Homo sapiens: one gene and its partners. The gene in region 5 interacts genetically with the main gene of each other region. Each region holds a gene or a part of one and is shown on either strand. Other genes may lie near its edges.

Region 1 (5,963 bases), on a different chromosome or scaffold from region 5:
GGCCAGGATGGTCTCGATTGCTTGACCTCGTGATCCGCCCTCCTCGGCGTCCCAAAGTGCTGGGATTACAGGCATGAGCCACCGTGCCCACCTTTTTTTTTTTTTTTTTTGAGATGGAGTCTCACTCTGTCGCCCAGCCTGGAGTGCAGTGGCACGATCTCAGCTCACTGCAACCTCTGCCTCCCAGGTTCAAGTGATTCTCCTGCCTCAGCCTCCTGAGTAACTGGGACTACAGGCACATGCCACCACACCCGGCTAATTTTTGTATTTTTAGTAGAGATGGTGTTTCACCATATTGGTCAAGCTGGTCTCAAACTCCTGACCTCAGGTGATCCACACACCTCAGCCTCCCAAGGTGCTGGGATTACAGGTGCAAGCCACCACACCCGGCCTCCATCTGTTCATCAACTAACATTTGCCCATCCGATTGTAGTAGGCCCAAGAAGTAGACATGGGGCCTGCCCTTAGAAAGCAGCTCAGTGGTCAAGATGGGTTTGCAATCATGGTACCTGTGATATGCGCAATAATAGAGATGTTAAAGGGTGGTGCAGAGGAGGGCACCACCGAGGTATGCGCTTAGTCTAGAACCCGGACCATGAGCTGTGCCTTCAGCTTTGTATAACTTAAGGGATTCTGAAGCAAGCTGAGCTCAGTGTCTCTGGGCTGCATGGAGCGAGTTGCTGACCTCAGCCCCTGTGAGGGGAGGACGGTTTGTTTCAGACATACTCTGCAGGGCATTTCTTAGATGATGTGCGTGCCTTTTGTGCCCAGGTAATCCAGCCTCCACCCTAGTGATAGTGCTGATGAAGTCATTGTCTCCTTAGAGCTAATATCCTTCCTGCCTGTCTTGCCACTTCTCCATCCCAGCCATTCCCCACCACTAAGTGCAGGATATCAGGGGAACCTAGGGGTTCCGGCCCTAAGGGCCATGGCCAGTTTAACCCACTCCCCTTTCTATTCAGAGCCTGCGATTATTGGCCAGTGACTTGCAGAGGCACAGTATTGCCCAGCTGGATCCAGAGGCCTTGGGAAACATTAAGAAGCTCTCCGTAAGTCTCATATTCATCTCCACACATAGGATGCCTCCAGTAGCTTTCTTGGGCTACCTTTATTTAGGATTGTCTTTTGGGCCTGGGCTAATACTTTCTACTTAAATTTGTGTTGTCTTCCTTCCCCCAAGAGATTTTGACTCTTACCCTACTTAGATAGCAGCAGTTCTGTTCCTCAGTTGATGTTGAGTTTTGTTCAATCCCAGGGTGCCTGCCACAGAAGTTCCACTGCAAAATCAAAATTCTGCCTCATTCAGGCAGTTAGTGCTAGGGGTATGTTAGGTCACTATTGGCCACCAGAAAGTGAAACCTAGAGTAGCTCAAGAATGAGGGTCGGGGCTTGTTATCAGGAATCTTACAGAATCAAAGAGCGAGCTGAACGGCCAAGCCTCTGGAGTGGTGGGGCCCATCAGCTGGGGCCTGTGTGCTCATTTCTCTCACACATCTTCATTCCTCCCTCAGCAGATAACCTTCTCCACAGGCTCCAGGTTCTGTGCTTACTTAACATTGTTTTGCATGTGGCTTTGAGTAACCACACCTCCAATCCCAACTTTATTGCTCTATTGCCCAATTGTTCAATTTCTTGTCTTGGTTTAAATTCTGAAGAGGGCCAGGCACAGTGGCACACACCTGTAATCCCTGCAGCTCAGGAGGCTCAGGTGAGAGAAATTGTTTGAGCCCATGAGTTCAAGGCTGCAGTGACCCATGATCGTGCTGCTGCACTCCAGCCTGGGTGACAGAGAAAGACCTCAGCTCTAAAAATAAAGTAAATTATCAATTTAATTTAACTGAAGAATGTAATGGCTCCGCCAGGGATGAACCTCCTTGGTCTGGTCAGCCATCATCTTGGGTGGTGGATGAAGCACTTAGTGTAAACATGGCAACCTTACCCTCATCCTTCTGTGGGGTCTGAAGGGTACATCCAAGGAAGGGGACAAGGCGGGGCTGGTTTCCTAAACCTGTCTTTCTGAACATAGGCCCAGTGCTGAGATCCCACACACACCTAGCCACCCAAATCTTGTGACTGTCATCCTCTAGCTAGATCTATTGCAATGTTCTTCTCAAATCTATGATACCTTTACTGTCTCACTTGAGTTGTTATTTTACTCCCTTGTTCAGATGAGAAACAGGTTCAGAAAGGTGAATTCATGTGTGATACAGATAGAGAATGGAGGGGCTCAGGCTGACTGTGGGAGGCCAAGGGGCAAGCCTGCCAAGTGACATCTTCTACAATGACCTCTCTCCTTTTCTTTTTAGAACCGTCTCGCCCAAATCTGCAGCAGCATACGGACCCACAAATGAGACACCAAAGTTGACAGGATGGACTTTTAATGGGCACTTCTGGGACCCTGAAGAGACTTCTTCCCTTCAGGCTTATTGTTTGAGTGTGAAGTTCCAGAGCAAGGAGCCATGTTCCTCTAAGGGAATTCAGGAATTCAGACGTGCTAGTCCCACACCAGTTAGGTAGAGCTGTCTGTTCACCCTCCCATCCCAGCTGATCCCAGTCACTGCTTGCTGGGGCCATGCCATGGAAGCTTCCCATCAGTCTCCCAGCTGAATCCTCCCTGCTCTCTGAGCTGCTGCCTTTTGCCTCCTGCAACTCAACATCCTCTTCACCCTGCCCTGCCTGCAGTTGAGGGGGCGAAGAAGAACCCTGTGTTCTCAGGAAGACTGCCTCCACCACCGCTACCCAGAGAACCTCTGCATCTGGCATTTCTGCTCTCTATGCTTGAGACCGGGAGGTTTAGGCTCAGATAAGTGAGCTCTGGGCCATGAGAGGGTAGGTCCAGAAGGTGGGGGGAACTGTACAGATCAGCAGAGCAGGACAGTTGGCAGCAGTGACCTCAGTAGGGAACATGTCCGTCTACCCTCTCGCACTCATGACACCTCCCCCTACCAGCCCTCCTCTTCCTCCTCCTCCTCCTCCTGTGGGAGGTGGTCAGTGGGACTTAGGGATCTTTCACCTGCTGTGCCCAGTAGTTCTGAAGTCTGCTTGTGGAGCAGTGTTTTATGTTTATCCCTGTTTACTGAAGACCAAATACTGGTTTGGAGACAACTTCCATGTCTTGCTCTTCTACCTCCCTAGTTAGTGGAAATTTGGATAAGGGAACTGTAGGGCCCAGATTCTGGAGGTTTTATGTCATTGGCCACAGAATAACTGTCTCTAAGCTATCCATGGTCCAGTGGTCCCTGCCAAGTCTGTAGACTTCAGAGAGCACTTCTCTCTTATGGGGTTCATGGGAACAGGGGTGGGTGTGACTTGCTTGGTGGCCTCATTCCATGTGTGCCTGTGCCTGGGGCATGGACTTTGTTAAGCAGAGTCAGCAGTGAGGTCCTCATTCTCCAGCCAGCCTCTCTGCCCTGGAGAATCATGTGCTATGTTCTAAGAATTTGAGAACTAGAGTCCTCATCCCCAGGCTTGAAGGCACATGGCTTTCTCATGTAGGGCTCTCTGTGGTATTTGTTATTATTTTGCAACAAGACCATTTTAGTAAAACAGTCCTGTTCAAGTTGTATTCTTTTAAGTTCTTTTATTCTCCTTTCCCTGAGATTTTTGTATATATTGTTCTGAGTAATGGTATCTTTGAGCTGATTGTTCTAATCAGAGCTGGTACCTACTTTCAATAAATTCTGGTTTTGTGTTTTCTTTTGTAATCACTGTTCATCCTGCCTGTCCTCTCCAAGCTGTGCTCTGTGGACTAGGGAGACAGCAATTGTGTGGGAGTCTTTGCACATCTGCTTTTCTCAGATGTGAAAACCTTTGCTTTGGGCAGATTCATTCTGATATCTGAAAGAGGGGCTTACTACAAGATCCAGAGCATCGGTACCTTCAACCCCCAGCAGAGCGCCCCCAACACCTTCATTCCATGAGCTAGAAATTTGTGTCTGGGAGGACAACACCTAGGGTCTCTGTAATTTCCCAGTATAGTAGACTTTTCTTGGCCAGGAACAAAGCGGGGCAAGAGTAATTCGGTGATCATGAGTCTCACTTCCCAAAGTTTCTGAGGCCCTGGCAGATCTGCCTTCCCGGAACTCTCTAGGCTGAAAATGATCAACCTAGAGCTAATGATGCAAGAGGGTTCTGCCTAAAAGAAGACAACCTGGGGGCATACTTAGCCAGGTTATTGGGTATTGACAATTTATAGACTAGGAATCTTCTGGTAGTGACAGCATTTGGAAGAATGGTTACTCAGTGCAAATAAGCAACCCAGACTATATGTCATCAGGCCTAAAGAGCCTGACACCAAGGAAACACTTAGGATCCAACCTGCTTTACCCAGAACCAGGTTCATCCTGTTTCATTCCATCTGCACCACTGCCTAAATCACCTAGTAGGAAATGCATGTTATGTAGCAGGTGCCTAATTAACACCTGGGACTGAGACATGGCAGTTCTTCATTTCATATAAGGGGCTGGCTTGGAAAGTAAAGAGTTCCCCATCCCAGGATTGATTGATTGATTGATTTTTTGAGACAGAGTTTCGCTCTTATTGCCCAGGCTAGAGTGCAGTGGTGAGATCTCGGCTCACTGCAACCTCCACCTCAGGTTCAAGCAATTCTCCTGCCTCAACCTCCCAAGTAGCTGGGATTACAGGTGCACACCACCACGCCTGGCTAAGTTTTGTACTTTTAGTGGAGACAGGGTTTCGCCATGTTGGCCAGGCTGGTCTCCTGACCTCAGGTGATCCACCCACCTCCACCTCCCAAAGTGCTGGGATTACAGGTATGAGCCACTGTGCCCGGCCCCATTCCAGGATTTTTAAAAAAAATTTTGTTTTTTATCATTTGGTATTTTTGTTGATTTATTTTGTAGAACTTATGTCCCCACCATCCCAGGATTTTTAAGTACAGGCTGAACTATGTCACAGGGCTGGGACAAAGACAACCTAAATCTTACTGCCAGCCCCCAGACATACTTTCATACTCGTTGGGTTGGGTTTGGGTTTTTTTTTTTCCCCAAATTAGTTGCTAACCATTTAAATATCGGGCGATTACACAAAGATTGCTAGCCTCTGAAAATAAGATCAGACAGCACGGGCCAACAGTCAGCTGGAGCTCAGTAGCAGCTTTCCTTGGCCCGCAGAGAATCCTCTACCGGTTCAAAGCAATCCTGATGAGATTACTTCTTCCCTTGATGTTACCTGCCTTATCTCTGTAGGCAATTTAGTTTTTACTGTCTGCTGTGGAGAGAAAGCATAGAACAGTAGGGCTGCCCCAGGTTGAAGGGAGAATGGAGGCCTGGAGTCCATCCCCAGGGCCGCTGAGGCAGTTTTAAGGAACCCCAGAGGTCCAGTCAACAGTAGGTTCATTCTTTGTCCTACAGGGCCCCTGTTATTTCCAAAAGCCCTACTTGGGGCTTCCTGTTGAGAAGATTACAAATGTATTATCTTGTGACGAGTTAGATTATATTACTCATATGAAGAGTTAGCTCATGTGCGTGTGTGACAGGACATCACCTAAGCATTTCTCCAAAGCATCAGACATGCCTTTTACCAGGAGGAATTAATATCCCCAGCCTGACCCATGATAATGAGTTCACATACCAATGCAGGGCTTAGCTCCACGATGTATCCCCAAACCTCTGAAAAACAAAGCATGTCTCAGTGCCTACCTGTGTACACACTCTGGTGGGTCCATTTTCTAATTTTACACAGTATCATAGCTGTTGACCCATACCTAAAATTCAGCATGACATATGTACTCAAAACTTTCATAGTAGATACAATTCCTGTGGCTCCAGAAATGGAAGGACTGAGAGACACTCTTCAGAGAGGATTCAATCAGAATTGGGGGCTACACTGGGCTCCCTGCTAAAAGGGGGGTCTGGAATCCAATTTGCTTTGCCTAAGATGCCATCTCCCTTTAAGGGATTAAACATCTCCTCAGCCCTGTATCATCCCTACCTGCATCACCC
Region 2 (5,963 bases), on a different chromosome or scaffold from region 5:
TTGCAGTGAGCCGAGATCCTGCCACTGCACTCCAGCCTGGGCGACAGAGCGAGACTCCGTCTCAAAAAAAAAAAAAAAAAAAAAAAAAAGAAAATGAATGAAAGCTCCAGGCCAATCTGAGAATGACACGAAGTCAGTTCCTACCTTCCAGGCCCAGGTGAAATGTCTAAGCGTACAGGCTAGCAGCCAAATGAATGGGCTGACGTGCTGGGGAACTCAGTTCAGCAAACCAAAGGTAACCATGTCAGAGTTAGTGGCCCAACCAGGGAGATTTTGGAAACGATACCAAGCTCTTCCTCAAAAACCCACCTATCCTGCCTACTAGACCAAAATGTACAAGAGCTTACTCCTCTTCTTCATCAGACGATGATGTTCGTGATGAGCGGTCTGACTTTTCACTGGATTTGTCATCCTCTTCCTCCTCTTCATCATCAGAGTAGACCTCACTGGTTTTTAATGGCTGTTTTTTGGCAAGGAGCTCAGCTAGAAAGAAAGAAGAGATGTTTACCTAGGTTTTCTCAACAAGAAAATGAATTCATCCTTGAAAAAGAACTGGAAATGGAAGAGGACTCAAATACACAGCTCCGTCCTCTCTAGACTGGATTGTGCTAACTTGGGGTATATACAGAAATGAGTTAAAACACAGAGTTAAAATTATTCAGGTGCCAAATGTCAGGCCCCAGCAGATGAAAAAAGGGCTGGAAGATTGATACTAGGTGGGCAGAAAGGGTCACCAACACTACTGACAGTTCTCTTTTATGGCACTCAAGACACTTGACTATGGGGAGGAAAGAGGGGGAAAGACTCATGATGACTTCAGAAGCTTCTGAGGAAAATTTAAAATAGGAGAGTGGCTAAATCACCACTGGTACATCTACCAATGAACTACTATGCAGCTATAAAAAAGGAACGTGGGGACGGGTGCGGTGGCTTACGCCTGTAATCTCAGCACTTTGGGAGGCAGAGGCAGGTGGATCACTTGAGGTCAGGAGTTCGAGACCAGCTTGGTCAACATGGTGAAACTCTGTCTCTACTAAAATACAAAAATTAGCCAGGCATTGTGGCCGGCACCTGTTATCCCAGCTACTTGGGAGGCTGAGGCAGGAGAATCGCTTGAACCCGGGAGGCGGAGGTTGCAGTGAGCCAAGACTGTATACCACTGCACTCCAGCCTGGGCAACAGAGCGAGACTCCATCTCAAAAAAAAAAAAAGGAACGTGGCCAGGCATGGTGACTCATGCCTGTAATCCCAGCACTTTGGGAGGTCGAGGTGGGTAGATCACTTGAGCTCAGGGGTTTGGGACCAGCCTGGGCAACATGGTGAATCTGCATCTCTACCAAAAATACAAAAAACAAACCAGGAGTGGTGGCTAAAAAAAAAAGAGAGAGAAAACTGTGTATAATATGCTACCATTAATCTAAGATGGCAGGTTAATCTGTGTACTTACGATTTAAAAAGAAAAAAGAATAATATAAAAAAATTTTAGGCTGGGAGTGTTGGCTCATGCACTTTGGGAGGCCAAGGCAAGGCGGATCACTTAAGGTCAGGAGTTCAAGACCACCCTGGCCAACATGGCTAAACCCCATCTCTACTAAAAATACAAAACAAAATTAGGTGGTGGTGCACGCATGTAGTCTCAGCTACTCAAGAGGCTGAGGTGGGAGAATCGCTTGAACCCGGGAGGTGAAGGTTGCAATGAGCCGAGATCGCGCCACTGCACTCCAGACTGAGTAACAGAGAGAGATCCTGTCTCAAAAAAGAGAGAGAGAAAAAGATGGATGGAAGGAAGGAAAAATAACTGCAATGGATTAAAACACATAAAGCACGTTAAAAATGATGAGTTCACAAGGATATTCAAAATAAATAAAACCCATCAGTCATCTTTGGAAGTTGCTAAAAACTATCTCTCTCTCTCTCTTTAAAATATTGCAGAAACAGGGTCTCACTATGTTGCCCAGGCTGGTCTTGAATTACACATGTGAGCCACTGTACCTTGCCAGGAACTATCTCATTCTTTCAAAAACTGGTAAACGAAAGGAAAATTAATCAAGCATTTATCTTGCCTTTCCTGTTCAAAATGTGCCTGGGGGGTAACTAAATAGCTGATTAGAAGTTTCTCTTTAGGCCGGGTGCGGTGGCTCACACCTGTAATCCCAGCACTTTGGGAGGCCGAGGCGGGCGGATCACAAGGTCAGGAGATCAAGACCATCCTGGCTAACATGGTGAAACCCCTTCTCTACTAAAAATACAAAAAATTAGCTGGGCGTGGTGGCAGGTGCCTGTAGTCCCAGCTACTCAGGAGGCTGAGGCAGGAGAATGGTGTGAACCCAGGAGGCGGAGCTTGCAGTGAGCCGAGATCGCGCCACTGCACTCCAACCTGGGCGACAGAGCGAGACTCCGTCTCAAAAAAAAAAGGTTTCTCTTTATAGAAGCAGGCTAGATAATGAATGAGGAAAGAATGACAGATTCGAAATATCACCATTTTGCAACTCCTAATGAATTAAATTATCTAGGTAATGACCATCAGTGGCTACTAGGACAGAACACGTTATTATTTCTTTTTCTTTTTTTTTGAGACAGAGTCTCACTCTTGTTGCCCAGGCTGGAGTGCAATGGTAGGATCTTGGCTCACTGCAACCTCCACCTCCCGGGTTCAAGTGATTTTCAGTGCCTCAGCCCCACAAGTAGCTGGGATTACAGGCATGTGCTACCACGCCTGACTAATTTTTGTACTTTTAGTAGAGACGGGATTTCACTCTGTTGGCCAGGCTGGTCTCCAACTCCAGACCTCACGTGATCTGCCTGCTCTGACCTCACAAAGTGCTGGGATTACAGGTGTGAGCCACCGTGCCTGGCCTGGCTAATTTTATTATTTTTAGTAGAGATGGGCTTGCACCATGTTGGCCAGGCCGGTCTTGAACTCCTGGCCTCAAGCAATCCTCCAGCCTCAGCCTCCCGAAGTGCTGGGATTACAAGCGTGAGCCACTACACTCAGCCCCACATTATCTTTTGTTGTTTTTTTTTTAAGATTGAGTCTCACTCTGTTGTCCAGGCTGGAGCGCAGTGGCGGAATCTCAGCTCACTGCAACCTCCGTCTCCCGGGTTCAAGGGATTCTCCTGCCTCAGCCTCCTGAGGAGCTGGGATTACAGGCATGCACAACCATGGCCAGCTAATTTTTGTATTTTTTGTAGAGATGGGGTTTCACCATGTTTGCCAGGCTGGTCTCAAGCTCCTGACCTCAGGTGATCCGCCCACCTTGGCCTCCCAAAGTGCTAGGATTACAATTGTGAGGCACCACGACCGGCCCCCACAGTATCCTTTCTAATTCTTCACCCATCTCTATACCCATGTCCTTTGCTATATGCCTTAGTCATTCTTCCCGGCCCCATAGTGACACTATGCCAATTCCAAGTCTAGGCCCTAAGAGGCATGTGTGTCTTTGCTTGCCCCTTTTATACTTCTGTCATCACCATATAAAAGTGCTCGGGGTTTACTGGCCCAGGGAGGAAGAGAGAGGTAGAACAGACCTGGCTACCACCTATAGCTTGGAGATAATTCCAGCTGAACTCATGCCATCAGGAGGGTGAATTGCAGTTGAACTTCAGATGCATGAGCAGAACAGGGGTTAGTTTGTTACTTCACATTATTGTGGTAAGAGCTAACTGACAGGATTGTTAACATCACAAACTGAGAGACAGTCAGATATCATGTGTCTCCTGATGGAAATACATACCACTACCTAAAAATCAGCCTTCCCCAAGAACAAGCAACAATGACAACAACAGAACAAACCCAAATCTGACCAATTCTGTAGCTCTAACTAACCATTTACAGGAAACCCAAGGGACCAGAAACACATTCAACAACAAAAACGAGATGTAGTCAGCAATGTGAGAAACCAGAAGACAAATGACCCAGTTCCTTCAGCAAATAACGCTGCAAGGCAGGGCAAAGAGATGGGGAAGAAAACATACAGATTAAATGCCTTAAGGGACGTATTAACAGATCACAATGTATGGACTTTAAGATCCTGATTCAAGTGGTCTTGTTTTTTAAATTACAAAACAAATAGAAATGTTTTTAAAATCTTGTTTTTTAAATTACAAAACAAATAGAAAAATTTGAACACTGACTAGATATTTGACAAAGAGTTCATTGTTATTTCTAGGTGTAATAATGGTATTATAGTTAGGTTTAAAACAAAAGTACTTATCTTTTAGAGGAACATACTGAAATATTTATGGTTAAAATATAATAATGCTGGTATTTGCTTTAAAATAATCTGATGAAAGGATTATAGATTTAACAAGACTGGCCAAGAGCTGACTGCTGTGGCTGGATGATGGGTTTGTGGATGTTTATACTATTCTGGGTATGTGCTGGAATTTTATATGAGAAAGATATAACAAGAGGGCAAAATGAAAATGGACACCAGGAAGTCAAATCATATAAAGACACAAGTAGCCATTATATTTCCCTCGCTTACCTGTTCTGTTCTTTCGTTTTTCTCGCTCTGCTTTTAGCTCCTCCATGGCTTGAGATTTCTTGTCTAGTTTCTCATCCCGCTTGGAACGCCGTTCCTTGTTGTGGGATGTTACCTAGGAAGGGAAGGATATATAGAATGGCCCTTTTTACCAACAGCTGATAAGATTCTCTAAACCTACTTAATGCATTTAGTCCTCCAACATCAATCTATATGGGCTGCAAAAACTTAGAGCTTTTATGTAAGGGGAGAGAGCATCCTCTTGTGGACAAAGAGGATAGCGCAGTAAAGTAAGCCCTGTCTAAAATGCCTATTCCAAGTTCAAGAATTATCCGAATAAACTCTTTCTGGAAGAACACACTACAACACAGCTAATGTTGGGATTACAGGCATAAGCCACTACACTCAGCCCCACATTATCTTTTTTTGTTGTTTTTCTGAGATGGAGTCTCATTTATGATAAATACAGAGATTATTTTCCCAGCTATATTTATACCAAGTAAAGGATGATATACATCTAAGTAAACATCATAAGCATCTGGCTACCTAGGACAGGTTGTTTACCAACTTTTCCTTAAGGGATGGTCACTCACTAGTGGGCTGCTTTTTTTTTTTAAAACAGAGCCTCGCTCTTCTGCCCAGGCTGGAGGGCCATGGCATGATCTCAGCTCACTGCAACCTCCGCTTCTGAGGTTCAAGCAATTCTTGTGCCTCAGCCCCCCGAGTAGCTGGGATTAAAGGCATAAGCCACCACGCCAGGCTAATTTTTGTATTTTTAGTAGAGACAGGATTTCGCCACGTTGGCCAGGCTGGTCTCAAACTCCTGGCCTTGAGTGATCTGTCTGCCTCGGCCTCTCAAAGTGCTGGGATTACACATGTGAGTCACTGCAGTTGAGGGCTGCTTTTTAAATGCAGACTTCAGTGAAAGCCGGGCACGGTAGCATATGCCTGTAGTCTCAGCAACTCAGGAGGACTGCTTGAGACTAGGAGTTTGAGGCTTCAGTGTGTTATGACTGTGCCAGTGAATAGCCACTGTATTCTAGCCCGGGCAACATAATGAGACCAGGGAAAGGGAAGAGGAAGGGAAGGAGGAAGGGAAGGGGGAAGGAGGAAGGGAGGGGAAGAAAAGGGAAAAAGAAAGAAGAAAGAAAAAAGAAAAGGAAAAAGGAAAGCAAAGGAAAAAGTGCTAAGGATTTAACAGCACAGCTAATGGTGATATGTCCAGAGATTAATGAAACCATGTCACAAGTCTTATAAACTTAGGCTGATTAATATAAATCCACCTTTTACACACACACACACACACACACACACACACACACTCAAAACAGGTTTATTCTTTGGACAATGAGGAACACTGAATCTCCTACCTGAGATTCTTGAATCTGTGTCAGTTTTTTCTTTTCTTGCTCCTCTTCTTGCTTTTTCTTCTTTTCTTTCTTTTCTTTCTTTTTGGCTGTTTTTAGTTTTTTCTTGATT
Region 3 (5,963 bases), on a different chromosome or scaffold from region 5:
TATTCGTGATGGAGAACAAATGCTTGTCACGTAGAAAAAGACAATACAGCAATCTTTCATAACCAGTTTAATTTTTTTTTTTTTTGAGACAGAGTACTTGCTCTATCACCCAGGCTGGAGTGCACTGGCACAATCACAGTTCATTGCAGCTTCAACCTCCTGGCCTCAAGCAACCCTCTCATCTCGGCCTCCCAAAGTGCTGTGATAACAGGCCATGGGCCACCACACCTGGGTTTTTTTTTTTTTTTTTTAAGAGATAGGGTCTTGCTTTGTCACCCAGACTGGAGGACAGTGGCATGATCACAGCTTACTGCAGCCTTGACCTCCTGGGCTCAAGGGATCCTCCCACCTCAGCCTCCCCAGTCGCTGGAACTACAGGCACACATCACCACACCTGGTTAATTTTATTTATTTATTCATTTTTGTGGAAGGGTCTCACCATGTTGCCCAGGCTATACAAGGCTTAATTTTAAAATTTAAAATCAGCCGGGCATGGAGACTCTAACTGTAATCCCAGCACTTTGGGAGGCCGAGGCAGGTGGATCACCTGAGGTCAGGAGTTCCGGACAAGCCTGGCCAACATGGTGAAACCCTGTCTCTACTAAAAATACAAAAAAATGAGGCGGGCATGGTGGTATGTGCCTGTAATCCCAGCTACTCAGGAGACTGAGGCAAGAGAATCGCTTGAACCCAGGAGGTGGAGGTTGCAGTGAGCCAAGATCGCACTACTGTACTCCGGCCTGGGCAACAGAGCAGGACTCGGTCTCAAAAATAAAATGAAATAAAAAATTAAAATCAACCACACATCTAGATATTCTGTCACACAGTTCTTGAGGAAAATACAAAGAAAAAAAAAAGAGGTTCACCATTGATAGGGGATTCTTAGAACTAAAGGGGACACTGTCCACCATAAGTCCAGCTTAACCACAAGCAGAGGGTCCACCACAAGCAGAGGGCCAGAGAGCTCGCCAGACTTCGCATGTAAGTGACTAATTATGGATCAGACCAGGGTTTTACATTCATTCATTCTCACTACCCCATTCTTCGCATTTTTGTTTTACATAATTTTTTCCTCTCTTATTCTGAGATCTTTGACAAAACTATCTGGGAACAGGGAACTGCTAACAACCTTGCAGGGCACCTGGAACTCCCTCTCCTGGTTCACTCACCTGTCTCATGAGGAGGATTCCTTCCTCATTTTCTCACTGGTGAGGAGAAACTATTTTCAGAAATGAACATGTGGGGCCTACGTCAGATGTGCTGGTCCCAGGGCACACCCCCATCGCTCTTCCCCCAGCTCAGCTCAGCCGACTGCAAAGCCAGACCAAGGTCCTCTACTATCATCCCAACATCTGCTACCAGACAGAATGCTGCACTATTGGCTACTGCCACTCCTGAAAGCTCTTCTCCTGTTTAAAGCCTGCCTTTTCAGCCACCTTAGGACAACTTTTGGATGTGAAAATTCACCTTAGGATGTCTCCCTTGTTGAGACTGAGCAGAACATTGTAGCCCTGGAACTCCGCTTCGCTGGCACAGAAGACACCCTTGTTTCTCAGGTCCTGGTACATCTCCTTCAGGCTCTGCAGGCACTTGGTCATGTTCTCATTATTGATCTTGGCATCAAAGGAGGACATGGGCTCCTCACACATGAAGTGGGCACAGTGGATGTGAAACCGGGTGCACTTCTCAATCAGGGACACCGTCAGGGGGTCACAGAGGTGCTGCTGCGTGATATCCTGGCCACAGGCGAGGGGGAGGATCACACACACATTCCCATGCAAAGAGGCAACCGTGAGAAGGATCATGCTACGACCTCAATTTCTCACTTTTCAATTTGAAACAAAGCCCATGATGCACATTTTAATAGGACTTTGTAGTGACTTAAATAAAAGTCCTGGGGTTTGTTTTTTTTTTTGAGACAGAAGCCAGGCTGGAGTGCAGTGGTGTCATCTTGGCTCACCACAACCTCCGCCTCCCAGGTTCAAGCAATTCTGCTTCAGCCGCTCGAGTAGCTGGGACTACAGGCGTGTGCCACCACGCCAAGCTAATTTTTGTATTTTCAGTAGAGATGGGGTTTAACCATGTTGGCCAGGCTGGTCTCAAACTCCTGACCTCAGGTGATCCACCCACCTCGGCCTCCCAGAGTGCTGGGATTACAGGCCTGAGCCACTGCACCTGGCCCACAAAAGTACATTTTTGTTACAGATAAAATATATAACAGAGTAATAAAAATATCAGTTTGACTTTGGAATTTGCGTGGATTTTTTAGCATCCAGGTTGGAGGCAGCCAATACCTTCCGTATGCCACGCGTGCGGTTCCACACGAAGTCATACCAATCCCGCAGGCTGCCCTCCTTCTGGTCCATGATCTGGGTCACCAGGTAGTCCATGGTCCTGCTGAGCACTGGCAAGGGCCGCAGCTCGTGGGGCAGGGGCTCCTCCTGATCCGCCGAGGACCGACTGTACTCTTTCACAGCTGCTGCGTGGTCCACCTAGAGACATGAAGCCGAGACAGGATGCCCATGTGGCATACCTTGGGCCAGGCATAGTTATGCCTGAAAATGAGGGGGAAAATCACATACACACCCACACAAGATCAGTATTTGAGAATATATTTTTTCAACATAAAATTTCTGTTAAAAGGTGACAATCAAAATTCAAAGACAAATAGAGAAATTTGATTTTGGCAAATATGACAAGGAGTTAAGATATGAGTGCGTCATGACAAACAGGAGGAATGTTAAGTGAAGGCACATCTGCTAGCCTCCAAAGCAGAGAGACGGGACAGGGAAGGGCCTCAAGCACTTAAAAGGTCTCAGGCCCGCTCACACACCAGATTAAGTCTACACAGAGCAGAAGTGAAACAGAGACAGGCGGTGAGGACTGCTGAGGACACAGCATCAGGGGCTGGCTGCCCACCTGGGGCCTGGAATTGCATCTCCCACCTCAAAAGGAGGCTGAAGACGTGGCCAAGGGAAGAGGCAGAGATGTACACAGGACAAGGCCCTGGGCATGTGCCTCTCCTGGGGCAGGGGCCCTACAGTGACACGAGTTGCTGGGCTGGGGACCCCGCACCAGGCGAAGGGTGTATAAAGCCACCAGCCAGGAAGAGGAGAAGCCCATAAGCAAAATTCACAAAGTCCAAAAGGATCTATATTGGTGCAGCTTTCTGGGGCAACAATTTGGGAAGATACATGGATAATGTTCAGGAAAGGTCATACCCTCTGATGCAGTAATTTAATTCTTAGGATCTGAAGAAAATAATCTAAATACCAGAGAAGCATTACATACAAGATGCCAAACAATATTACTAATAGAACTAAAAATTTAGAAGCAGCCTATCTACTAATGGTAAAAATGCAGAGTTTTGACAGAGCTACTAATAAAATAATATGCTGTCATTTTTAAATGCTCATAGTTTACCCTAACAAAGGAAAATGTTCATGACATAATTTTAAGTGGAAAAGATACACATAAAATTGTATCTAGAGCATAATCTCGAATGTGTAAAACATAAGCATAGAAACAGACAGGAATAAGATCGTAAAAAGAAAAAAGTTAGCTGGATGTGGTGGCTCACGCCTGTAATCCCAGCACTTTGGGAGGCGGAGGTGGGCAGATGACTTGAGCTTAGGAGTTCGGGACCAGCCTGGGCAACACGGCAAGACCCCATCGCTGCAAAAAATAAAACAGTAACTAGGCGTGGTGGAGCATGCCTGTAATCCCAGCTACTCTGTAAGCTGAGTGAGAGGAGAGGATCACCTGAGCCTGGGAAGTTGAGGCTGTAGTGAGCCATGATTGGACCACTGCACTTCAGCCTAGGTGACAGAGTGAGACCCTGTCTCAAAAAAAAAAAAAAAAAAAAAGAATTTGAAAAACAACTTTATTTAAAATAACTTGCATCTATACCTTATCATGTATAGGTACCAATTACAGAGTGAACATCTCACAATGCAAAACAGCTTAATATGATTGTTAATAGCACAAATACCCAACACTGTCTAAAACAAACACCCAAATCAAGTATGTACAGAAATGACAAAAGCAGCCCCGTCCCCTGCCCACACTCCACGGGGAGATGCAGGGCTCTACCTGGTCAGTCCCTGGGACCACTTCGAACACGCTCAGCTGGCTACGGGTCTCCCGCATGTACCTCTCCTTCTCAGGACACATATCCAGGCAGGTGCCAACAAAAGTCCTCGCTTTGTCCAGATCGGTTCTCTTCACCCGAGCTAAATGACGTCAAGTAAAAGGTAAGAATGTACCACATGGTTAGCACGAACCTACAGAAGTGTATTCTCATAATGATAAAAAGAAATTAAAACTTAAAACACACACACACATTACAAAAGAAAAGAAAAACATTTGTAAAACTCAGAGCCTCAGACAAAGAGGACTTATGGTCTATTATGCCAGGCAGTGGGACATCAAAGCTCCCAAAGACCCGAGTCCACCTCTCTCTAACAGTCACAGACCCTCACTGCAGACTAAGAGAAAGACCCCCGAGTCACCTCTCCAACAGTCACAGACCCTCACTGCAGATAAAAGCAGGGGAGTGTCCTCACTTTCAGCCGGAGTTTTCTAACTCCTGTAATGACCTCAATGACAAAAAATCATGGTGCAGGATGTTTACTAAAAGGATTGACTTGTAACAACTGCAAATATTCAAAATATATCACTATTCTAAAACTGTCTCAGTATTCACCATGACTTTAATATAAGAATCATATAATGGACGTTAACTGGGTTCTTACCTGAATGAGTAAACTGCTATTACACTTAAGTTACAATGTAGCTTGCAAGGAAAAGGAAATGCAACAACTTCACACTCAAAATATATACTTATTGTTTTCATGTTGAAAAATTCTAATACCTGGGCCCGGCCTGGTGGCTCACGCCTGTAATCCCAGCACTTTGGGAGGCCAAGACTGGCAGATCACCTGAGGTCGGGAGTTCGAGACCAGCCTGACCAACATGGAGAAACCCCATCTCTACTAAGAATACAAAAATTAGCCGGGCGTGGTGGCGCATGGCTGTAGTCCCAGCTACTCAGGAGGCTGAGGCAAGACAATCACTTGAACCCGGGAGGCGGACGTTGCAGTGAGCTGACGTTGCGCTCACTCTGTCATGGTACTCCACCATGGGTAACAGAGCAAGACTCCATCTCGAGGAAAAAAAAAAAAAGAAAAATTCTAATACCTAATAATAATTTTTAGAATATAAAAATCACTGTATCAATGATATGATGTTTGATGGCAGCTTTTATTACTATATGTTATTATATTAAGGAAACATGGTGATTATTCAAATTATCCACAGCTTTTAAAAAGAGGAAACTCCTATAGCTGATTTTTTTTTTCTTTTTGAGATGGAGTTTCGCTCTTGCTGCCCAGGCTGGAGTACAATGGCACAATCTCGGCTCACCGCAACCTCAGCCTCCCGGGTTCAAGCCATTCTCCTGCCTCAGCCTCCCAAGTAGCTGGGATTACAGGCATGTGCCACCACGCCCGGCTAATTTTGTCTTTTTAGTAGAGATGGGGTTTTTCCATGTTGGTCAGGCTGGTCTCGAACTCCTGACCTCAGGTGATCCACCAGCCTCGACCTCCTAAAGTGCTGGGATTACAGGCGTGAGCCACCACGCCCAGCATTTTTTTTTTTTTTTGAGACAGAATCTCACCCTGTTGTCCAGGCTGGAGTGCAGTGGCACAATCTCGGCTCACTGTAACCTCCACCTCGCCAGTTCAAGTGATTCTCCTGCCTCAGCCTCCCAGGTAGCTGGGACTACAGATGCACACCACCGCACCCAGCCTGCTTATTTATTATTTATTTATTTATTGTAGAGATGGGGGTTTTGCCATGTTGGCCAGGCTAGTCTTTAACTCCTGACCTCAGGTGGTCCCTCATGCCTCAGCCTCCCAAAGTGCTGGGATTACAGGTGTGAGCCACCATGCCCAGCCCGGCTG
Region 4 (5,963 bases), on a different chromosome or scaffold from region 5:
ATAGTTGGAGAGTTGCTTCAGAGTTTAGCGTAACCAACCTTTGAAACAAAGATTCTGTAAGTCCACCATTTTACTTGCAAATTCTTTCTACAGAAAATACCCACCTAATAAAATAAATAACATGGCTAACATGGTGAAACCCTGTCTCTACTAAAAATACAAAAAATTAGCCCGGCATGGTGGTGGGTGCCTGTAAGTCCCAGCTACTCTGGAGGCTGAGGCAGGAGAATGGTGTGAACCCGGGAGGCGGAGCTTGCAGTGAGCCGAGATCACGCCACTGCACTCCAGCCTGGGCGACGGAGCGAGACTTGTCTCAAAAAAAAAAAAAATTCTATAAAAATTGTTTCTTTTGTTTTGTGGTTACTTTTGTTTTCTTAGGAAATATACTGTCCTCGGCCGGGTGCGGTGGCTCACGCCTATAATCCCAGCACTTTAGGAGGCCAAAATGGACAGATCACCTGAGGTCAGGAGTTTGAGACCAGCCTGACCAACATGGAGAAACTCCCCCTCTACTAAAAATACAAAAATTAGCTGAGCATGGTGGCACATGCCTGTAATCCCAGCTACTCAGGAGGCTGAGGCAGGAGAATCGCTTGAACCCGGGAGGCGGAGGTTGTGATGAGCAGAGATCGTGCCATTGCACTCCAGCCTGGGGAACAAGAGCGAGACTTCGTCTCAAAAAAAAAAAAATACACTCTCCTTTATCTACATCTGCTTTTATCGCTGTCTTTGCCTTATTGGATGTTTGAATTTGGGCAAGAACATAATATAATCTGTGTGCTGTTGAAGTTCCTCATCTATAAAGTGAAAACATTGAACTAGATTATATTTAAGACTCTTTCCAGCATTTTCATATGAAGGTATTATCATCTGCATGCTTTTTTTCCCCCTTTATGATTTGTTTTTTGTAATAGATAATCATGCACATGGTGTAAAATTCAAAAGAAACAAAAGGAAGTGTGTAGTGGGAGTGTCCTGCTATTACCCCTCACCTGCCCTCCCTAATGGCATGATACTACGTTAGAGCCAGTCACAGCTCATTGCAGTCTCAACCTCCTGGGCTCAAGTGATCCTCCCACCTTAGCCCCACAAGTAGCTGGGATCACAGGCATGCACCACAGGCTGATTTTTTTATTTTGTAGAGATGGGGTTTCACCATGTTGCCCAGGCTGGTCTTGAACTCCTGGACTGAAGCAATCCTCTCACCTCGGCCTCCCAAAGTGCTGTGATTATAGGCGTGAGCCACTACGAGGGCCATGATGCAATTTTTTATTGTGGTAAAATATGTATAACATAATATTCCTCATTTTAACTTTTTTTTTTTTTTTTTTTTTTTTTTTTTTTTTTTTTGAGACAGAGTCTTGTTCTGTCACCCAGGCTGGAGTGCAGTGGTGGGATCTCGGCTTACTGCATTCTCCGCCTCCGGGGTTCAAGCGATTTTCCTGCCTCAGTCTCCTGAGTAGCTGGGACTACAGGCATGTGCCACCATGCCTGGCTAATTTTTTTGTGTTTTTAGAAGAGACAGGGTTTCACCATGTTGGTCAGGCTGGTCACGAACTCCTGATCTCAAATGATTCTCCTGCCTTGGCCTCCTGAAGTGCTGGGATTACAGGCGTGAGCCACCATGCCTGGCCCATTTTAACTATTTGTAAATGGTATAATTCAGTAGAATTAATTACGTTCACAGTGCTGTGTACCCATCACTGTTATCTGTACTCAAAACTGTTCATCACTGCCAACATAAACTCCATATTTTTAAAGAATGCCTCCCCCTTCCTCCTCCCTCTACCCCCTATTCAACTGTCTGTCTATAAATTTGACTAGGTACTGCATGTAAGTGGAATCACAGTATTTGTCCATTTGCAACTGGCTTATTTCACTAAGTAAAATGTTTTCATGGTCTGTCCATTTTGTAGCATATATTAACTTTATTCCTTTTTATGGCTGAGTAATATTCCATTGTGTGTGTATACCACATTTTGTTTATCCATTCATTTGTAGATGGACCCTTGGGTTGTTTCTACTTCGTGGCTATTGTGAATACTGCTACTATGAGCATTGTTGTACAGATAAATGTTTGAGACCGTGCTTTCGATTCTTTTGGAAATATACCTAGGAGTAGAATTGCTGGCTCATATGGTAGTTCTATGTTTCACGTTTTTAGGAACTGTCAGACTTTTCCATAGCAGCTACACCATTTTACATTCCTACCAGCAATGCTCAAGGGTTCCAGTTTTTCCAAATCTTCATCAGCACTTGTTGTGGTGCTATTTATTGTAGCCATCCTAGTGACTGTGTTGTGAAGTGGCATCTCCATTGTGGTTCTGATTTGCATTTCTCTAATAATTACTGATGTTGACCTTATTTTCATGTGCTTATTGGTCAATTGTATGTCTTCCTGGGGAAAATACTATTCATATCCTTTGCCCATTTTTTTAAATTGGGTTTTTTGTTGTTATAGGAGTTCTTTATATATTCTGGATATTAATCCCTTATCTGTTATAGGTTGAGTATTCCTTATCCATAATGCTAGGATCCAGAAATGTTTTGGATTTTGGATTTTGGATTTTGCAATATTTGCATTTATACTTACCAGTTAAGCATTCGCCTACTTATTTATTTACTTAATAGAGTTGCCCAGGCTGGTCTTGAACTCCTGGGTTCAAGCGATCCTCCACCTTGGCCCCCCAGAGTGCTGGGATTACAGGTGTGAGCCACCGTGGCCAGCCCCAGTTAAGCATTCTAAATCCAAAAACTTGAAATTCGGTATGCTTCAATAAGCATTTTCTTTGAGCATCATGCCAGTGCTCAAAAAGTTTTGGAGTTTGGAGCATTTCAGATTTCAGATTTTTGGATTTGATATGCACAACCTGTAAATGATTTGCAAATATTTTCTCCCGTTCTGTGGGTTGCCTTTTTCACTCTTGATGGTTTCCTTTGATGCACGAAATTTTAAAATTTTGAAGTCTAGTTTATCTAAATTTTTTTCTTTTGTTTCCCATGCTTTTGGTGTTATATCCAGGAAAGCATTGCCAAATCCAGTGTCATGAAGACTTTCCCCAATGTTTTCTTCTAAGATTGTTATAGAATCCTCAATTCAGGCTTGTATCCCCAATGTGGAGCTGAGAGCAAACACTGAGTCACCGGTACTTGGAGATAGAGAAAGGTTTATTCGATTTGGCTAAAGCAAGAAGATGGGAGGGCAAGATCTCTCGAATCCATCTAAACAAAAGGAAGCATTGGGTAGATTTTATGTGACTAGATCTAGTAAGGGAGGGGGAGTTTCACAGAATCCAGTGGAAAAGTCTGTGTTTCTTTGGTCTCAGGTAACGCCTTGAGCAACCAGATGTCTGGTTGTTAGCAGCTGGTCACAGTGTCCTTAAAGCCATTCATTTCTTCTGGCAACATTTTTCTTTACATGACGCTGAAGTTATCTTCTCTTGATTGACAAAGAAGCAGTACATCAACAGTTTATCATTATATTGTGGCAACAAGGGATATTCAGCAAAAAGTGAGTGGTTAACATGCGCAAGCAAGCAAGGGCCTGATACAAATTATTTATTTCAGTCATTAAAAAATGTTAGGGTGCTGAAATCTAGTTTTCCCAGCACCATTTCTTGAAAAGACCATTCTTTCCCCTGTTGAATGGTCTTGACACCTTTGTTGAAAATAATGGCTATATATATGGAGGATTGCATTCTGGGCTCTCTTGTGGACATTTATCTGTATGTCTCCTTGTCCTAATAGCACACTGTTTTAATTCCGGTAGCTTTGTAGCTTGAGTGGCTATTCAGACTGTTTTACAGCTCTTCTCAGGGGAGGAGTATGTCTGATTGCCTTTGCACTAGGGCTTCCCTAAGCCAAACAGCTGCTTATGGGGAGGAAGGAATAGAAATTTATAGAATTATAAAAGTTTTTTTGGCGTTAAGTCTGAGGTGTGTCAGTTCAGTATACTATAGATTGGATTTGGGAGTGGTGGCATAAGAAGGACTTTTCTTTGAATTTCAAGATACTTATTTGTATTTAGTTTAGTCATCTTTCATTAATATATTAGCAGTGGCAAATCCATATGGGTCTGCAGCAGCCTCATTTCTTGCCTCTTCAAAAGAAAGAATTCCACCTAGGGGCATAAGGCAGAGTAAGAGACTAAGATAAGTTTTAGAGCCAGAGTGGAAATTTGTTAAAAAATTTTACAGCAGAAATGAAGTAAAATACATTTGGAAGAGGGCCAAGTGGGTGACTTGAGAGAGTCAAATGCATGGTTTGATCTTGGACTTGGGTTGTTACACGTTGGCATGCTTCCCAGGGGTTGCGTCTCTTCTCTGATTCTTCCCTTGGGGTGGGCAGTCCGCATGTGCAGTGGCCCACTAGTGCCTGGGAGGGGCTGCGTGTGCAGTGTGTTTACTGGAGTTGCGCAGATGCTCACTTGAGGCGTTTTTCCCTTAACAGAATGTTCCTAGAAGGTCATAGATCAGTTAAGCTCCACCATTTTTCCTCTTAGTGCACATGCTTGAGCCCAGTCATCCAACTCCTCAGATCTTATCAGGAAGCTGCTGATCACCAGTTTCAGGTGTTTCTATCTGTTGGGAGACTACCTTTCCCTGGCACTGGCTGCAACCAATGATTAGTTTAGAGAGAAAGTTTAACAACTGCCTGATCATCACCTGATGGTTGCTTGACATTCCTGGTGGGGTGGGGTCCTCTGCTGCCCTGCTCATGTCTGACTACCTACTGTAACAAATGCATTTATTTTCTCAACATTTGTGTTTGTATTAATTATTCAGTGGTGTCTGTAGACAAAAGTTTGCTAAGATGTTATCTTTGAAGTTTATGTAATATTATCCTTTTAATGTTGAGACTCTTTAAGAAGGATTTTGGTAACCATAGACAGTAATCTGTTGATTGCTAAACTTTATTGACTTAGTTTTTTTTTGAGACAAAGTCTTGCACTGCCACCCAGCCTGGTGTGCAGTGGCATGATCTCGGCTCAGTGCAGCCTCCGCCGACCACACTCAAGCGATTCTCCTGCCTTAGCCTCTCTAGTAGCTGGGATTGCAGGCGCCCGCCACAATGTCTGGCTAATTTGAATATTTTTAGTAGAGATGGGGTTTCACCATGTTGGACAGGCTGGTCTTGAACTCCTGACCTCAAGTGATCACCCGCCTCAGTCTCCCAAAGTGCTGGGATTACAGGCGTGAGCTACTGCACCTGAGCTTATTGATGTTTTTAGTAAAGTTTCATCTTATCTGTGTGCCAGAAGATAACTTTTAAATGTGATGTTGGAATTTTACAGTGATCATAAAGCTTGCTTTCTACCATTCTTTTGGTCCCTGTTAAAAGCCTTCACTTAAAAGTGCATGGTAGCTGGGTGCAGTGGCTCACACCTGTAATCCTAGCAACTCGGGAGGCTGAGGTGGGAAGATCAGTTGAGGCCAGGAGTTTGAGACCCATCTGGGCAACATAGTGAGACCCCCCCATCTCTATAAAAATAAGAAAAATTAGCTGGGCATGGTGGCAGGTGCCTGTCATCCCAGCTACTGGGAAGGCTGAGGCAAAAGGATCACTTGAGCCATGATCATGGTACTGTACTCCAGCCTGGGTGACAGAGCAAGACCCTGTCCCTAAGAAAAAAAAAAAAATAATAATAATAGTGGTCCAAATGGGATTAACAGAAAATTATTCTTGAGAGAAGAAATTGCATGCCTTTCTTTTTTTTTTTTTTTTTTTTTTTTTTGAGAGAGGGTCTTACTCTGTCACCCAGGCTGGAGTGCAGTGGTGCGATCTTTGCTCACTGTACCTTCTGCCCCACTGGCTCAAGCGATCCACCCGCCTCAGCCTCCGGAATAGCTGGGGCCACAGGCGTGCACCACCACACCTGGCTTTTTTTTTTTTTTAGTTTTTAGTAGAGACGGTGTCTTGCCATGTAGCCCAGGCTGGTCTTGAACTCCTGAGCTCAAGCAGTC
Region 5 (5,320 bases):
AAATGGCCTGATCTCAGGCCGGGTGTGGTGGCTCATGCCTGTAATCCCAGCACTTTGGGAGGCCAAGGCAGGTGGATCACCTGAGTTTGGGAGTTCGAGACCAGCCTGACCAACATGGAGAAACCCCGTCTCTACTAAAAATACAAAATTAGCCGGGTGTGGTGGCTCATGCCTGTAATCCTAGCTATTCAGGAGGCTGAGGCAGGAGAATTGCTTTTACCCAGGAGACAGAGGTTTCAGCGAGCCGAGATTGCACCATTGCACTCCAGCCTGGATAGCAAAAGCGAAACTCCGTCTCAAAAAAAAAAAAAAAGGGCGTGCTTTCCTCATTACAGTCAGTTGTAGGTTATGGTCAGCCAAAGACCATGCACTTGTAATCGGGGTTTATGTGTTTTTGCATTTTCCAAGTTTCCTGTTTTTGAGGGTTTGTCTGTGGCTCCAAAGTTCTTTTGCTTATTCATTTATTCAGAAATATTTACTGAATGCCTACCATGTGGTAGGCATTCTTCTAGGTGTTAGGACGTGTAACAGTGAGCAGAACGAAATGTCGAAACGCATAGAGCAAATATTCTAATAGTTAAAAAAATAGATAATGTATCAGTAAGAGTCCAATTAGAATGTCAGAAACTACCTTAGATGTAGAAGGAATTGGTCTCACATGTGTTAGAAGGGCTGGGAAAACAAAAGGTAATAGGAGGGGTGCTGGGAGAACAAATAGGAAGAAAAGGGAAAACCCAGAAATAGTAATTGTTAGTACCCCTGCTACTTGACTGTTGAAAATGCTGTAAAAGTTTGTTCTGAATTAGGAGAAAAGGCGCTCCCTCAACCAGGCTGAAACTACCACCAGTGTTGTTGCCAGAAACCTGGAGCAGGAAGGAGCTGCTTCTCCCTTCCGCCTTCCAGTCACCCACCATTAATACCTGCTATTGGCAAGGCCCATCTGGATGGCAGATGGCAAAGCAGCCTGGAAAGTGGAGTTTACCAACTTCTACCTCCTACAGTATATAGTGGAGCACAGCAAAGTGGAAAAGGAGGCCGGGCGCGGTGGCTCACACCTGTAATCCCAGCAATTTGGGAGGCCGAGGTGGGCAGATGACCTGAGGCCAGGAGTTCAAGACCAGCCTGGTCCAACATGGTGAAACCCTGTGTCTACTAAAAATACAAAAATTAGCTGAACGTGGTGGTGGGTGCCTGTAATCCCAGCTACTCTGGAGGCTGAGGCAGGAGAATTGCTTGAACCCGGGAGTTGGAGGTTGCAGTGAGCCAAGGTCACGCCACTGCACTCCAGCCTGGGCAACAGAGCAAGACTCCATCTCAAAAAAAAAGAAAAAGGAAAATAACATGGCCAAATACACTGCTAATTACCATGAAGAAGAATACAGCAGAGTAGGAGGATAAAGAATAAAGACAGGGGTGAGGGGAGCTACTCTAGTGAGAGTCAGAAGAGGCCACTTGGCAGAAGGAACATTTGAGCAGAGACTTAAGAGAAGTGAAGGCATAAGTGACATGAAAGCATTCCAGGCAGAGGAAACAGCAAATGCTGAGGGCCTGAGACAGGCAGAGAACTGCAAGGACACCACGGTTGGAGCTCAGGCAGCAGGGTACAGTGGTGGGAGATAAGGACTGGTGGCTGAGGAGCCCTGGGACTTTGTAGCCCATGATAAGGACTTTAGACTTATGGGAGGGGGAGGAGAAAAGTGGAAAACAGGGAGATGAGGAAGGAGTCTTATCACAGTGGCTTGAATAATGTGTTAATCTTTACAGCGTCCAAGAGCAATGTAAAATGTAGGGGCAGTAAAAGATAAACAGAAAAACTAAGGGGAAAAAAATTCTAAAACTTCTTCAGAAAAATTCTGGAGCGGAGAGCATGTGTGGAGCATGCATGCATGTCCATGCTATAACTTCATCTACAGAGAAACAAACAGTTTCATCTAAGGATTAACTAAGTATGTACTTCGTTTTTACTTCCTTCCTCCCCTAACCGCACAGTCTTGAACTTGCAAGTTTACTTTTAAGGAACCTTGGTTAGACTGGAAATAAAACTTTATTCTGTGTCTACTATTGCAAGGCACAGTATTAGACACTGTGAAAAAGTAAAACATATAAAATATGCATCCTGCTCTTAAGACATATTTAGTCATGGACAGAGGCATGGATAGTTCAATTAGGATATAAGAATTGTTATAAAGTAGTAAATTAATGGTACATACAAGTGCTGAGGGTTCAAGGAAAGAGAAAAACATGAAGTAGAGGTTGTCTTCAAAGTTTTCTTAGAGAAGGAAGTTCAGCCATATTTTAAAGGATCAGCAAGATTTTAAATGTACTAATCTTTAAGCTTCAAGACATAGGGACTTGGCACAGAGCACTTAGCACAGAGCCTGGCACATAGTAGGTACTCAGTCATTTGTTGAGTGAATTAAATTTGTACTTATTTGATATGACAGCAAGTTGAGAGGAAAGTAAGTTGCGAATAATGACTAAAATTGAAATATACTGCCTCTGCCTCACTTTATTCTATAGTAAGTACAGTGCGCTGTTAGAGATAAAACCTTATAATCTAGTAGTGTTCTAATCTGCTTGTAAGAACATTTATCTAAAAAGCATAAGAATGAAAGATTTGAGGTAAGGCGATTATATTTTAAGAAATATAGTAACAAATATATATTTAGAAATATATTTCTAGAAATGTTCATCTAGAAATATGTCTAGAAATTCTTTCTCATGATCATTTTATTTTGTTATTACCCAAGAGTTTATATTTCCATGTATTACCTACATTTTTGGTTTCTTTTTTTTCTTTCCTTATTCAACTTGTATGCTGGCCGTTTTGCTACCTTTCTGAGACTTTCCATTAAAAGATGAACAGAAAGTCAGTTGAAATCACCTGCTTTTCCTGAAGACTTCGAGTTTGGTATCCATATTATCCCATGGAAATTTGAATATTTAATATCACTGAATAAGCCTTTGGTCCAAAGTGGTGATGTATAATAATGGAATTATTAGCCTATTATTCTGAGAATTAAACACATTGATATCATCACCTTTCTAAATATCAGTAGAAGTTTGAATGTTTACTAATATAAAAATCATCTTGAAAGATTTCTTCCTTTTCTTTTTTTCTCCCAGGAGGAAGAAGCAGTACTTTTTTGTCTCATAGCATTAGTAACCAAGCTAATGTTCACCAGTCTGTCATTAGCTCCTGGCTCAGCACTGATCCTGCAAAAGACCGAATTGAAATCACAAGCTTACTTCCCAGTAGGTCTCTGTCTGTGAACACTTTGGATGTTTTAGGTCCTTGTCTTGTTTGTGGAACCGATGCAGAAGCAATTTATGTTACTAGACATCTTTTTTCGTAGAAGTACTATAATTATAAGATTTCAGATAGAACATGCAATTAGCCTTTTGAAATCCAACTTCTGTGCAAAATTTTAGTATCAGAAAATACGAGATTTGCAGGGGAAACATCAGTAAACTACCATTAATGTCAATGCCCAGTTTTGACTTTTGTTAGCCTGACACTCCCAAACAGTTGTAGAATCCGATAGATGACTGATGGCAAAAGATTGTGAACATGTGGAAGAAAATCAGTGGGATTCTGGTGCTGATGAATAGGTTGCCTTCAGAGTATTATTGACAGACAGCTTGTGGAACTAATTCTTTATTTTTGATGTTGTGGGAATTAACACATCAATGGTGGTTATGGGAACTACCAATGGGTTCCTACAATTTTTATCAGTAGTATGTGGCATATACACCTTCCTAGTGGCAGTTGCCAATGTTAATGATTATTCTTTTTATTGCAAGTATTTCCTATGATCCTTCCACACTTTATTTCCTTAATAATAATAAACTTTTTCAGAAAGAATTGAGTAGAGCAAAAATGACAAAGATGTGTAGCTGTGTTCAATTTTTTTTTTTTTTTTTTTTTGAGGCAGAGTCTTGCTCTGCTGGAGTGCGGTGGTGCAATCTCGGCTCACTGCAACCTCCACCTCCCAGGTTCAAGCAATTCTCCTGCCTCAGTCTCCTGAGTAGCTGGAACTACAGGTGTGCGCCACCACGCCCAGCTAATTTTTGTAATTTTAGTAGAGACAGAGTTTCACCATGTTGGCCAGGATGGTCTCGATCTCTTGACCTCATGATCCACCCGCCTCGACCTCCCAAAGTGCTGTGATTACAGGTGTGAGCCACTGCACCCGGCCTGAAATTTTTTTAAGGTGAAAATGTTTTGACAAGTTCCTTTTTCAGAATAGGTTTTTGAGCAGAACTCTTTCAGCTTGTTAGACCCAACTTTGCTTTTGTTTAGCTTCACAGCATAGCTGAAAGTTGCCAAACTGGACATTGTGCAATAAAGTAGAATTCTATATTGATAAGCAAACTATTTCCAAACTAAAAATGTGATAGATAAAAGTGTGATTAATCAAATGATATGATCAGAGTAAAGAATTTTGCCATTTTGATCCTTTTACTTTGTTTTAGCCACCTATAGTGTTACCAACCATCTTTATCCTTGTCTGCAGGGATAATAATGAACTAATGTAGTGTTTTAAGATAATTTAATGATACTATCTTTCCAAACTTTGTTAGATTTTAAATGTATTATTGACCTGAGACCTTAATGACAAATCACTGCTATTAGACAATTGAAGTGTTCATTTACTTTGTAATTCCAATAATCATAGTTATGGAATTATGGTAAGGTTTTGCTTTTCTGTCCTAATAAATATATATATTTTTTGAGATGGAGTTTTGCTCTTGTTGCTGAGGCTGGAGTGAAATGGCATGATCTCAGCTCACTGCAACCTCCGTCTCTTAGGTTCAAGCAATTCTCCTGCCTCAGCCTCCCGAGTAGCTGGGATTACAGGTGCTCACCACCACACCCAGCTAATTTTTGTATTTTTAGTAGAGATGGGGTTTCACTGTGTTGGCCAGGCTGGTCTTGAACTGACCTCATGATCCACCTGCCTCAGCCTCCCAAAATGCTGGGATTACAGGCTTGAGCCACTGCTCCCGGCTGATTTTTGTATTAGTAGAGACGACAGGGTTTCACCATGTTGGCCAGGGCTGGTCTCGAACTCCTGACCACAGGTAATCAGCCCGCCTCGGCCTCCCAAAGTGCTGGGATTACAGGCGTGAGCCACTTAGTATTTGTAACCATAAGAGAAAGTATATTTTAACAGCATTACATTTCATGCCAATTGACAAGTTTTGCCAATTTTAATAAGAAACTAAGCTTTATGTAATGTAACACCGTAATTTATGAATTTGTTCATTGTCACTGCCTTTATTCATGAAACTGTCAAATAGAGTGTCTTTCAAGGGT

Evidence for each region.
Region 1: changes in NUP43 (region 5) and CDCA8 together harm fitness less than expected from each alone (positive genetic interaction), as found in Homo sapiens cells (one large-scale study listed by BioGRID).
Region 2: changes in NUP43 (region 5) and RTF1 together harm fitness more than expected from each alone (negative genetic interaction), as found in Homo sapiens cells (one large-scale study listed by BioGRID).
Region 3: changes in NUP43 (region 5) and MCM3AP together harm fitness more than expected from each alone (negative genetic interaction), as found in Homo sapiens cells (one large-scale study listed by BioGRID).
Region 4: changes in NUP43 (region 5) and SEH1L together harm fitness more than expected from each alone (negative genetic interaction), as found in Homo sapiens cells (one large-scale study listed by BioGRID).

Annotation. Positions count from the first base shown.
Region 1 is NC_000001.11:37,706,016-37,711,978, forward strand, and holds the end of CDCA8 (borealin), read left to right. Parts: intron 1-962; coding exon 963-1,049; intron 1,050-2,306; coding exon 2,307-2,351; 3' UTR 2,352-3,704; downstream 3,705-5,963.
Region 2 is NC_000015.10:41,464,777-41,470,739, reverse strand, and holds part of RTF1 (RNA polymerase-associated protein RTF1 homolog), read right to left. Parts: coding exon 5,855-5,963; intron 4,600-5,854; coding exon 4,488-4,599; intron 484-4,487; coding exon 348-483; intron 1-347. UniProt on the Homo sapiens protein: Component of the PAF1 complex (PAF1C) which has multiple functions during transcription by RNA polymerase II and is implicated in regulation of development and maintenance of embryonic stem cell pluripotency.
Region 3 is NC_000021.9:46,271,094-46,277,056, forward strand, and holds part of MCM3AP (germinal-center associated nuclear protein), read right to left. Parts: intron 4,233-5,963; coding exon 4,093-4,232; intron 2,493-4,092; coding exon 2,295-2,492; intron 1,737-2,294; coding exon 1,468-1,736; intron 1-1,467.
Region 4 is NC_000018.10:12,956,752-12,962,714, forward strand, and holds part of SEH1L (nucleoporin SEH1), read left to right. Parts: intron 1-5,963. UniProt on the Homo sapiens protein: Component of the Nup107-160 subcomplex of the nuclear pore complex (NPC). The Nup107-160 subcomplex is required for the assembly of a functional NPC.
Region 5 is NC_000006.12:149,725,005-149,730,324, reverse strand, and holds part of NUP43 (nucleoporin Nup43), read left to right. Parts: exon of another isoform or gene 1-806; coding exon of another isoform or gene 807-835; exon of another isoform or gene 836-1,764; coding exon of another isoform or gene 1,765-1,805; exon of another isoform or gene 1,806-1,845; intron 1,846-1,846; coding exon of another isoform or gene 1,847-1,935; exon of another isoform or gene 1,936-3,126; coding exon 3,127-3,356; 3' UTR 3,357-5,320. UniProt on the Homo sapiens protein: Component of the Nup107-160 subcomplex of the nuclear pore complex (NPC). The Nup107-160 subcomplex is required for the assembly of a functional NPC.